Linked DNA regions of Homo sapiens: region 2 is linked to region 1. Evidence: fine-mapped expression QTL. A gene starts in region 1. The other region holds a variant in brackets. All regions are shown on one strand. Distances are from middle to middle. Region 1 holds the start of GFRA1 (GDNF family receptor alpha 1). Region 2 overlaps GFRA1 (GDNF family receptor alpha 1).

Evidence for each region. PIP is the estimated chance that this variant, and not a neighbour inherited with it, causes the effect.
Region 2: its variant is the best candidate, but not a certain one, in a credible set for the expression of GFRA1 in nucleus accumbens (GTEx, PIP 0.90).

The regions. Positions count from the first base shown.
Region 1 is chr10:116,270,913-116,275,423 of GRCh38, reverse strand. It overlaps GFRA1 (GDNF family receptor alpha 1), which reads left to right and starts at 2,218. Exons shown (of 11, transcript NM_005264.8): 1 at 2,218-2,261; 2 at 3,149-3,434; 3 at 4,309-4,511. The coding sequence starts at 3,395. It overlaps LOC107984273 (a long non-coding RNA gene), which reads right to left and starts at 1,415. Exons shown (of 2, transcript XR_001747598.2): 1 at 1-1,415. RefSeq lists a silencer at 1,713-2,007 and an enhancer at 1,216-2,053.
Region 2 is chr10:116,168,131-116,172,130 of GRCh38, reverse strand. All of the region lies in intron 5 of GFRA1 (GDNF family receptor alpha 1), which reads left to right. Among named protein-coding and RNA genes, the nearest start is that of SNORD158, 25 kb to the left of the region's middle. The variant A/G (reference allele first, on the strand shown) is at 1,939.

The sequences.
Region 1 (4,511 bases):
AGTAGAAGCATCATAAGTTGGAGATCATCTGTATTTTAAAAAGAAGTCCCATATTCTACACTGGGAGAGCTTTTAGTTCACCCTTCCCCCACCCTGTTAAAATTTGATTCAAAAGAATTCCGTGGAATATATAGGGTAACATGAAGTCATTTCTAAACAAAGAACATTTACAAAAGATGTGGATGATGTCTTAAACCTCATTGTAATCCAACTATCCCAAGTAATCAGCACCGGTAAGCACTAGTCCCTCTATTGAAAATTGAAATTCCAATTACTGATTTTCCAAAAGAAGACATTCTCCTCCACTTACGAAATGGAACAATGAAAGAGGATTTTCTGTTTGGGGTGACCGGGGAGAAACGGAGTCTTCACACAAAGTCTTAGTTCATATTCAGCCCTCCTTTCCTTGAAACCACATCCCCAGGATTTATCTGGCTTGTTTGTGAAAATATGGGAAAACATTTTAAGTCGAAGAAACTGATCAGATGACTTAATTACATTTCTGCTTAGTTCAGCCTGTAACTTAGACTGTTAGAGAGAGAGAACTTAAGTAGCCCTTGGTTTGAACCATCTGTCGCGAAAATGTGACATATGTTTGCTTTGTTTACTCAACAACCAAGTGTAAACTGATACACTGAACTAGAGTATCCCTGAATGATGTGGCTATGGGTGTGTGTGTGTTGGAGGAGGGGTGTCTGATGAGGGCGTCCGTCTCCTCATACTTACCCTGGAGGAACACGCGTACAGCACAAGAGAAGTGCGGATCCGTAGGATGTCCCCCGGGTTTGGGGCGCGCCCCGAGGCGCAGACCCTCTTTGGCGACTCCACACAATATGCAGCCCGCCTGCAAGCAGCCGCTGCAGCCGAGGGGCGCGCCTGGCTGATGTGTGGTTGAATGGAGAGCGGCCCAACCCTCCTCCTTCCTCCTCTTCTTCTCCCCGCCCTGACACCCGGGCCTCAAACTTCAACCAAAGCCCGTGCCCTTTTCAATTTACCCCCCTCGATCAAAATGAGCCATTCTTGTCTGTCCTCCGCGGCGGCCCATTGTCTGGCGTGATAGGTTTGCAGATTTGACAGCTGGGCGCACGCAGATTTGATTCAAACTCGGTCTCCCCGAGAGATGAACTTGGACATCAGCAAAGATCCCGAGCACTGCCGGCTGGCTCCTAGACCGGTCTCCCGACCCAGTGTAGACTTCGGTGCCCCGGGCGCCCCCCGGCGTGCGGGAAGGGGAGCGTGTGTCAGGCGTGGGGGGCGGGGGGTGAGCAGCACGACTGGGAACCAGCGGTCCCAGGGGTTGGGGCGAAGGGCTGTGTACATGTTAGGCTTTTTTTGTTGTTGTTAATTTACTCTCGAAACAGCCAAAATGGAGGTCAGCTTATAAATTTTCTAAAGCCAGGTCTGGCCGGGTTTAAATGCAGTGGGCTGGGGGCTCCGCTTTTGTCTCCTTGTCGGAGCTCCAGGAGAGAGGTAGAGACTGCGTGTGCATGTGTGCGTGTGAGTGTGAGTGTGCACGCGCTGGCGTGGACGAACGGATGGGCGCATCCCAGGATCGCCGCTCCAGCGTCCTGGGTCTGAGTGTGTCTTGAAAGCACCAAGTCTTGAATCACAGCCACTAGTGACGTGGGGGAAAACTTTGTGTTCCGAAGAAGGGTCTGGCTCGATTGCCCTAAGAAGAAAGAGCCCTTGTGCCCGTGTATGTGTGTGTGTGTGTCTGTGTGTGTGTGTGAGAGAGAGAGAGAGAGAGAGAGACAGAGAGAGAGAGAGAGAGAGAGAGTGTGTGTGTCTGGCAGCACCCGCGGCCGGCTGCAGAACACTGCGTGTCCTGTGCGCGAGTACGGGTCCGGCCGCGGGTCCCACCGCAAGCGGGCGTGTGCAGCTGCGGCTGCCTGGCGGGCGAGCTTAGGAGGGAGCTGGAGCTGCGGAGCGGCGGGAACAGGAGCAGGCCGAGGGTCCTCTGGCCAGAAGAAATCTGGCCTCGGAACACGCCATTCTCCGCGCCGCTTCCAATAACCACTAACATCCCTAACGAGCATCCGAGCCGAGGGCTCTGCTCGGAAATCGTCCTGGCCCAACTCGGCCCTTCGAGCTCTCGAAGATTACCGCATCTATTTTTTTTTCTTTTTTTTCTTTTCCTAGCGCAGATAAAGTGAGCCCGGAAAGGGAAGGAGGGGGCGGGGACACCATTGCCCTGAAAGAATAAATAAGTAAATAAACAAACTGGCTCCTCGCCGCAGCTGGACGCGGTCGGTTGAGTCCAGGTTGGTGGCATTTGGAGTTTTTTTCGTTCTGTTTGGGAACCCATTGCCGCTTCCCGTCCCTCTTCCCCACTCCTTCTTCCCCCCTCCTCCGGCCACCCCTTTCTTTTTGCTGGCGTCTCCCAACTTTAGGGCCCGGGGGGCGCTCGTGGCGCCGGGCTGCACCTGCCGGGGCACGCCGGGACTGCGGGCCGGCGCGCTCGCCCTGGGCTGGGGTGCGGAAGCGCCCGAGTCCTGGGCACCGGGCGAGAGTGTGAGAGGAGCGGACGCCCAGGAGGGAGCCGAGGACGCGCGGCGGGTAGGGGGTAGGGGCGCAGGAACCGGGTTTCAGCCCCAGTCGGGACATCGGTTCCCCCTGGCTTGGCGGCCTCTGGAGGGAGACGAGTCCCGGGGAGAAGGAGGGCGGCGACTGGGGCTAGGGATTGGCGATCGGAGTGGGGAGGGCCGGCGGCTGAGCGAGCTCGCTGGCTGACGCGAGGAGGGGGAGGCCAACTTCCCGGGAGAAGGGGCTCTTTCGGCGCCAGGGCTGGCTAGGGAGCTGCCGCCGCCGCCACCGAGGGCTCGGACTCCAGGCAGCTGCAGGCTCCGCTCGCGACGCTCGGAAAGTACCGTTTATTTATTTATTTGCTTGCGTTCAGCGTCTCGGGTTGAACCCAACAGACACCCCCTTGGACTTTAGGAACCCTCTTCAGACCTCTCCAGCCCTCACCTCCATCCCCGTGTCAGCGGCCCCTGGAAAACACGCACATGCACCCCGACCTGGGTGGGGGTGGGTCCTCACCCCGGTGTTGGAAATTCCCCAAAGGCGGGAACGGGGGAGGGGAGAGGGTTCTGTGGGGGGAGTCTCCGGCGCTCTCCGCTCTCATCTCAAAGCGCGCCCTCCCTTCCAGGTTGGGTCGGACCTGAACCCCTAAAAGCGGAACCGCCTCCCGCCCTCGCCATCCCGGAGCTGAGTCGCCGGCGGCGGTGGCTGCTGCCAGACCCGGAGTTTCCTCTTTCACTGGATGGAGCTGAACTTTGGGCGGCCAGAGCAGCACAGCTGTCCGGGGATCGCTGCACGCTGAGCTCCCTCGGCAAGACCCAGCGGCGGCTCGGGATTTTTTTGGGGGGGCGGGGACCAGCCCCGCGCCGGCACCATGTTCCTGGCGACCCTGTACTTCGCGCTGCCGCTCTTGGGTAAGTCGAGGCCCGCCGCGGGCTTTCTTACCCTCTGAGTCTTTCCTAGGGTCGCTTGCAGCAGCCCACCCCGCCCTCCGCACCAAAATTGGGGCGCGGGTGTGGTGGATGTGGAAGGAAGAAGTGTCTTTTTGGGGAATGGGATCGCGAATCCCCGGGTTAGGGAGGCGGTGGCGGCGCGGCGCTGCCTGAAGCTTTTCGGGCTTGGTTTTGATTTCCTGTGGTTTTTAATGACCCAACTTGGCGGGGGACTAAGAAGCCCTCCAGCCCAGGGCCCTGCACCCCCAGAGAGTCTCTGGGAGCTCGCGGAGCCGCGGCGGGCAGGTGGAGTTGGGGAGCATTGGGGCCGGGAGAGCAAACTTGGAAGAGAAAAGTTTTTCCCGAGTAGCTTCTGGGCACTCTCCGCCCGGCGGACCGCTGACCATGGCTGGCCTGCCCCGCGCCCAGCGCGCGCCCGGTGCCCAGTCCGCCGCCGCACTTCTCCTCGGAAAGCGCCTGAGTTTCAGCCGGGCGGAGCGGGTGGCTGGAGCCGGGGGTGGCCCGGGAGCCCGGGTCGTTGCTCAGGCCAGGATGCCCCGGGGCGGAGGGCCGACGTGCGCGGTGGGCAGCGCAGGCTCTGGAGCAAACCCTTGAAGCCCGCGGGCTGAGCCTGCGCCACTCTTCCTTGCGGGCCCGGGAGGAGGAGAGAGGAGCTGGAATTCCAGGGGGCGGGAAAATGGACTCCCGGATGGTCGAGAGGTGGACCCGCTCCCAGAGCAGGGCGCCCCCGAAGGCTGGTCAAGCATCCCTGACCCGGGCGCGCGCCCTCGCCCGGAGCAGGGGCGGCCGGGGTCCCCGCCCGCCGCACTCAGGCTCCCTCCCCTCTGCCCCGCAGACTTGCTCCTGTCGGCCGAAGTGAGCGGCGGAGACCGCCTGGATTGCGTGAAAGCCAGTGATCAGTGCCTGAAGGAGCAGAGCTGCAGCACCAAGTACCGCACGCTAAGGCAGTGCGTGGCGGGCAAGGAGACCAACTTCAGCCTGGCATCCGGCCTGGAGGCCAAGGATGAGTGCCGCAGCGCCATGGAGGCCCTGAAGCAG
Region 2 (4,000 bases), 100 kb after region 1:
AGATGATAGAATTGGGAACATTTAACCGGGTCTCATCTTCTGAAGAGTTCTCAGGGCTGAGGGTAAACACCGTGGAAGGACTTGACGTGTATTCTAGGGACAAGGGAAGCATTCAGAATGGAGCTTTGGGGATCTGAGTGATTACAGGACAGGGAAGAAGAAAAACCACCAAGCTGGGCATGCAATGATTGTATCGGGGCTAAACAGAGTTCCTTTGCTGCGCCTCCCTCTGCTGATACCACACTGATACCAGCAGAGTGACCTCTCATGAGGACTCCTCTTTAATTGTGAGCAGGAGTGACTCAGTAGGTAGTAGCCTTCAGAACCTCAGAGACCATGGGAGATGGCAGGTGAAACCGATGACTCCTTGATCTGAGCAGAAGGAAAATTCAAGGAAAGCCGCTGCCAACATGTGCTTCTGTCTCAGCAGCGGCTAACAGTCACCATCATTCCAGCTGTGTATGTGCTGTTTCAGGAAGCCTAATAAATCTGGTGATTTAATTACACGAAATTACTTAATCAGAGAAATTTTATGCTACAAATTATTACTTTAATAAACCAGAGAGAATAAAGAAAAATTTCTTGAATATCTTTGCCAAATCAGTCTAGGCATCCATTTTCAATTTAATAACTAATAGCAGAGGAGATTGAAATAGATGTTATTACAGATTTTTACAAGGCAAAATATATTTAAGCCGGATCAGAAGGTTAATTAAAATTATAGTTGGGTCTTGTCATTACCAAGCTACTCTTTTTCTTTGGTACAGTTGCTCCGAGTTTAGCGTCTGTTTGATAAAAATGCTTAAAATGGAATCCTCATTTAAAAGAGAATTATACTCCGTATTATTTCTGAGCCTGATCTCATGTACCTACGTCGGAAATAAATGCATAATTAACCCTTTTTCATGATAAATTAACATTCATTTTCCTAGGATTAGTCGGAAATAGCATAATCCAGGGCAGGTTTTGCTTTCATTCTAACAGTCCCCTGGGACCTCTAACACTCTTAAAGGATTAGTAAAGCCTGTGATTCATTGTGTGTCTATGTACATGAAAATAGGATGCAGTTCCTGACTGTCAGGGAGAGAGGTTTTCCTAATTGACAGCTTTTATAAGTAAACGTAGAAAGATTAGCCTGCAAATACTGTGAGGGTGACTTTGGAGACCTGGCTGGGATGTGTTAGCAAAAGGATGATGTGTCCTGTGAATATTGAAAATTCCAAATGCATTCTACCAGGATTTTTAGACAGGAGGTTACAGCAGCTGTTGAAGTCAAGGCCCCTGGAGAACAGATAAGCTTTTAGGGGAAGTTCTTTGTCTGGTCTAAACTCTTGGGGTTTTCTTGCTTATCTGAGCCCACTTTTATGAACCAATAGGTTTACATTTACATAAACAGTGTGGGTTATTTTATTTGATTTATTAAGACCGGGTTGAAAAAAGCGGAGGCTTATTGGAGAATTGAATCTGAGCTTCCCTGAGTTTTTAATTCAAAATTCCCAAAGCCTTAATGAATGTGAATAAATTTCCATGAAAAGTCATGGGGTAGGGAGCCTGTATTTTAAATGCTTAGAGGGGAAAATGGAGTCCAAAGAGACTTCTGCTCCATTACTTAGTAACAAATAGGGTACAGGTTTCCTTTGGTTTGGTCCAAAACACAGAAATTTAGAAGAGCAAATTGAAACACCATCTGTTGACTAGGTATGATACCTGGTCATATTACAGGCATTTTACATGAATTATCTCAATAGAGAACTTGAAAGTAAAGAGAAGACATTTGTGAGTAGTGTAACCCAGAGAGAGAATGGAGTTCATTGCCCCACTTCCTTTTCAATGACACACACCTAGTAGATGCTTAAAACATGTTAAGAATTCTCCTTGGATTTGTCCTTTTAGTGGAATTCCTATCAAGACAGGCTCAGCATCACATAGCAGATAACC[A/G]TGGTGGTGAGTCTCTTCCTGTCCTATACTTCCATGTTGCTCATGGAGGCCTTTGATTAGCAATTGAGACAGGAGAGTTCCCTTTACCCTCTGGTGGGACTTGCAGCAGGGGTGGCTCCTTTGCTCAGCTGCTTCCACGTGCTCAAACCCCTTATGGTGGGTGGTGCATGCATGTGAGTGGGTGCAGGAGCTGGGGCGAGTGCCTTTGGGCACTGGCAGGAACAAACCCCCATACCAGCCCACAGCAATGTCTAGGGGTTGCCAGCAACCTCTGGAGCCCCAGAGGGTGTGTGTTACAATCAGTGCTCTTTTAGTATGTGCTGTCTGTGGATGGCTAAGTGTTACACAGCTCAGTGGAGGGTCACTGTGACAGCTTCTTGCACCCGCACCTGGGTCCTTGTCTAGTGCCCAAGAGGAATGAGGTCACATGGACTTGAAGGATGGTGAATGTGGAGATTTTATTGAGTGGTGGAAGTGGCTTTCAGTGGGATGTGGAGCTGGAAAGGGGATGGAGTGGGAAGATAATCTTCCCTGGAGTTCAGCTGGGGACTGAACTCTTCTCCAACTGACCTTGGCCAAATTCTGTGACCGTAGTCTCTGACATCCAGCTGCCTCTTCTCCTCTTGATGTTTGGACACTTCTTCTCTTCTCTCCTTTTCTGCCACAGCGCTCTGCTCCTCTGCCAGTGGAGCTTTGGATTTTTATGAGCACAGGATATGGGCCATGGTAGGCCAAAAGGCAACATTCGGGCGGGAAAACAGGGATGTGAAGTTTTCGTTTAGGTCCGCAGGTCCAGCTTGAGGGTGGAGCCCTCGCCAGGGACCCCACCATCTTCTACCTAGTATTTCCCTGCCTCCTGTCCATATCAAAATGATTAGGATCAGCTTTTGGGGAAGGTACTTTTTAGTTTATGTTTTAACATTTAAGATCTAGCATAGCCTTTGGAAGGCAAAAAGTGAACTCTAGTCATCAAGTCAGGGGATCTTGATGTTCTCAGGGGCACTGGATGAGTTTGTCAGATTCTTGTCCCATAAAGACAGTGGTCCCTCTTGACAAGTGACCCTGGAGTTAGTCCTGTGTCCTGGAGTTGGAGGCAGCATTCAGGGGTGATGAGGGAAATCAGTGGGAGGTGACAGAGGGGATGGGGCCCAGCCCACTGCCCTTGCTGCAGAGAAACTTCCCAGGGGCAAGGTATACTTAATTAACTGCCCTGTCTGGAACCCATGTCTAAATATCACTAAGGGTTTTGTTTTCAAAGAGAAGCTATTAAAGTTATCTGAAGTACTGAGAAATTGTTTACATAGCAGAGTTCATTGTGGGTTTTATATTTGAAAGAAAATCTGATACGAGTATAATCTGCATGCTGGATGTGGATGGCTTCAAGAAACAGTTGGATCAAATAAAACTAATGATGAATAAAACAACCATAGCAGCAGACAATATATATGAGATATTCAGCAGAGCCCATGGCCTCTGCTGGACAGACGGTGGGAAGGGGAAGCTCTGTGGGGGCCCTAAAAGAATTTCTTGTTAACCCCCCGAGGTTGGCCCTTCCTCTCCACTGGCCATGATCCACCTGAAGGGAACTTGAGCATTTAATTCAACAGACCAGCATGATACTTCCTCCTGTGGCCTGATGAGCAAGTGGAGTGAGCCCAGGCCTGCAGAGTGACACAACAGTAGGTAGACAGTTGCAGAAGGAAATAGCTGACCCAGAAGGACTCTGGGCCAGGGCCACCCAGCATGGGAACTGGTTTACACATGCTATGGAAACTCTGTTTTGATCACATGGGAAACTTCAGGAGCTGATTTTTCCCTGCCTTGCTCAATCCTCTTTTGAACCCTATCTTAATGATAACATGGTAGCGGGAGAGGGCAGCTCTTTCAGAAGGCAAACCCCAGGAAGGCAGACATTTCTGCTTTGTCTGTGTTATTCACTGCCCTATTCCAAGAACCTAGAGCAGTGCCTTGTACTTAGCAGGTCCTCAATAAATGATTGTTGAATGACAATCACACTTGCCTGTCTGACCTAAAAAAAAAAAAAAAAATTCCCTGGTTTTTG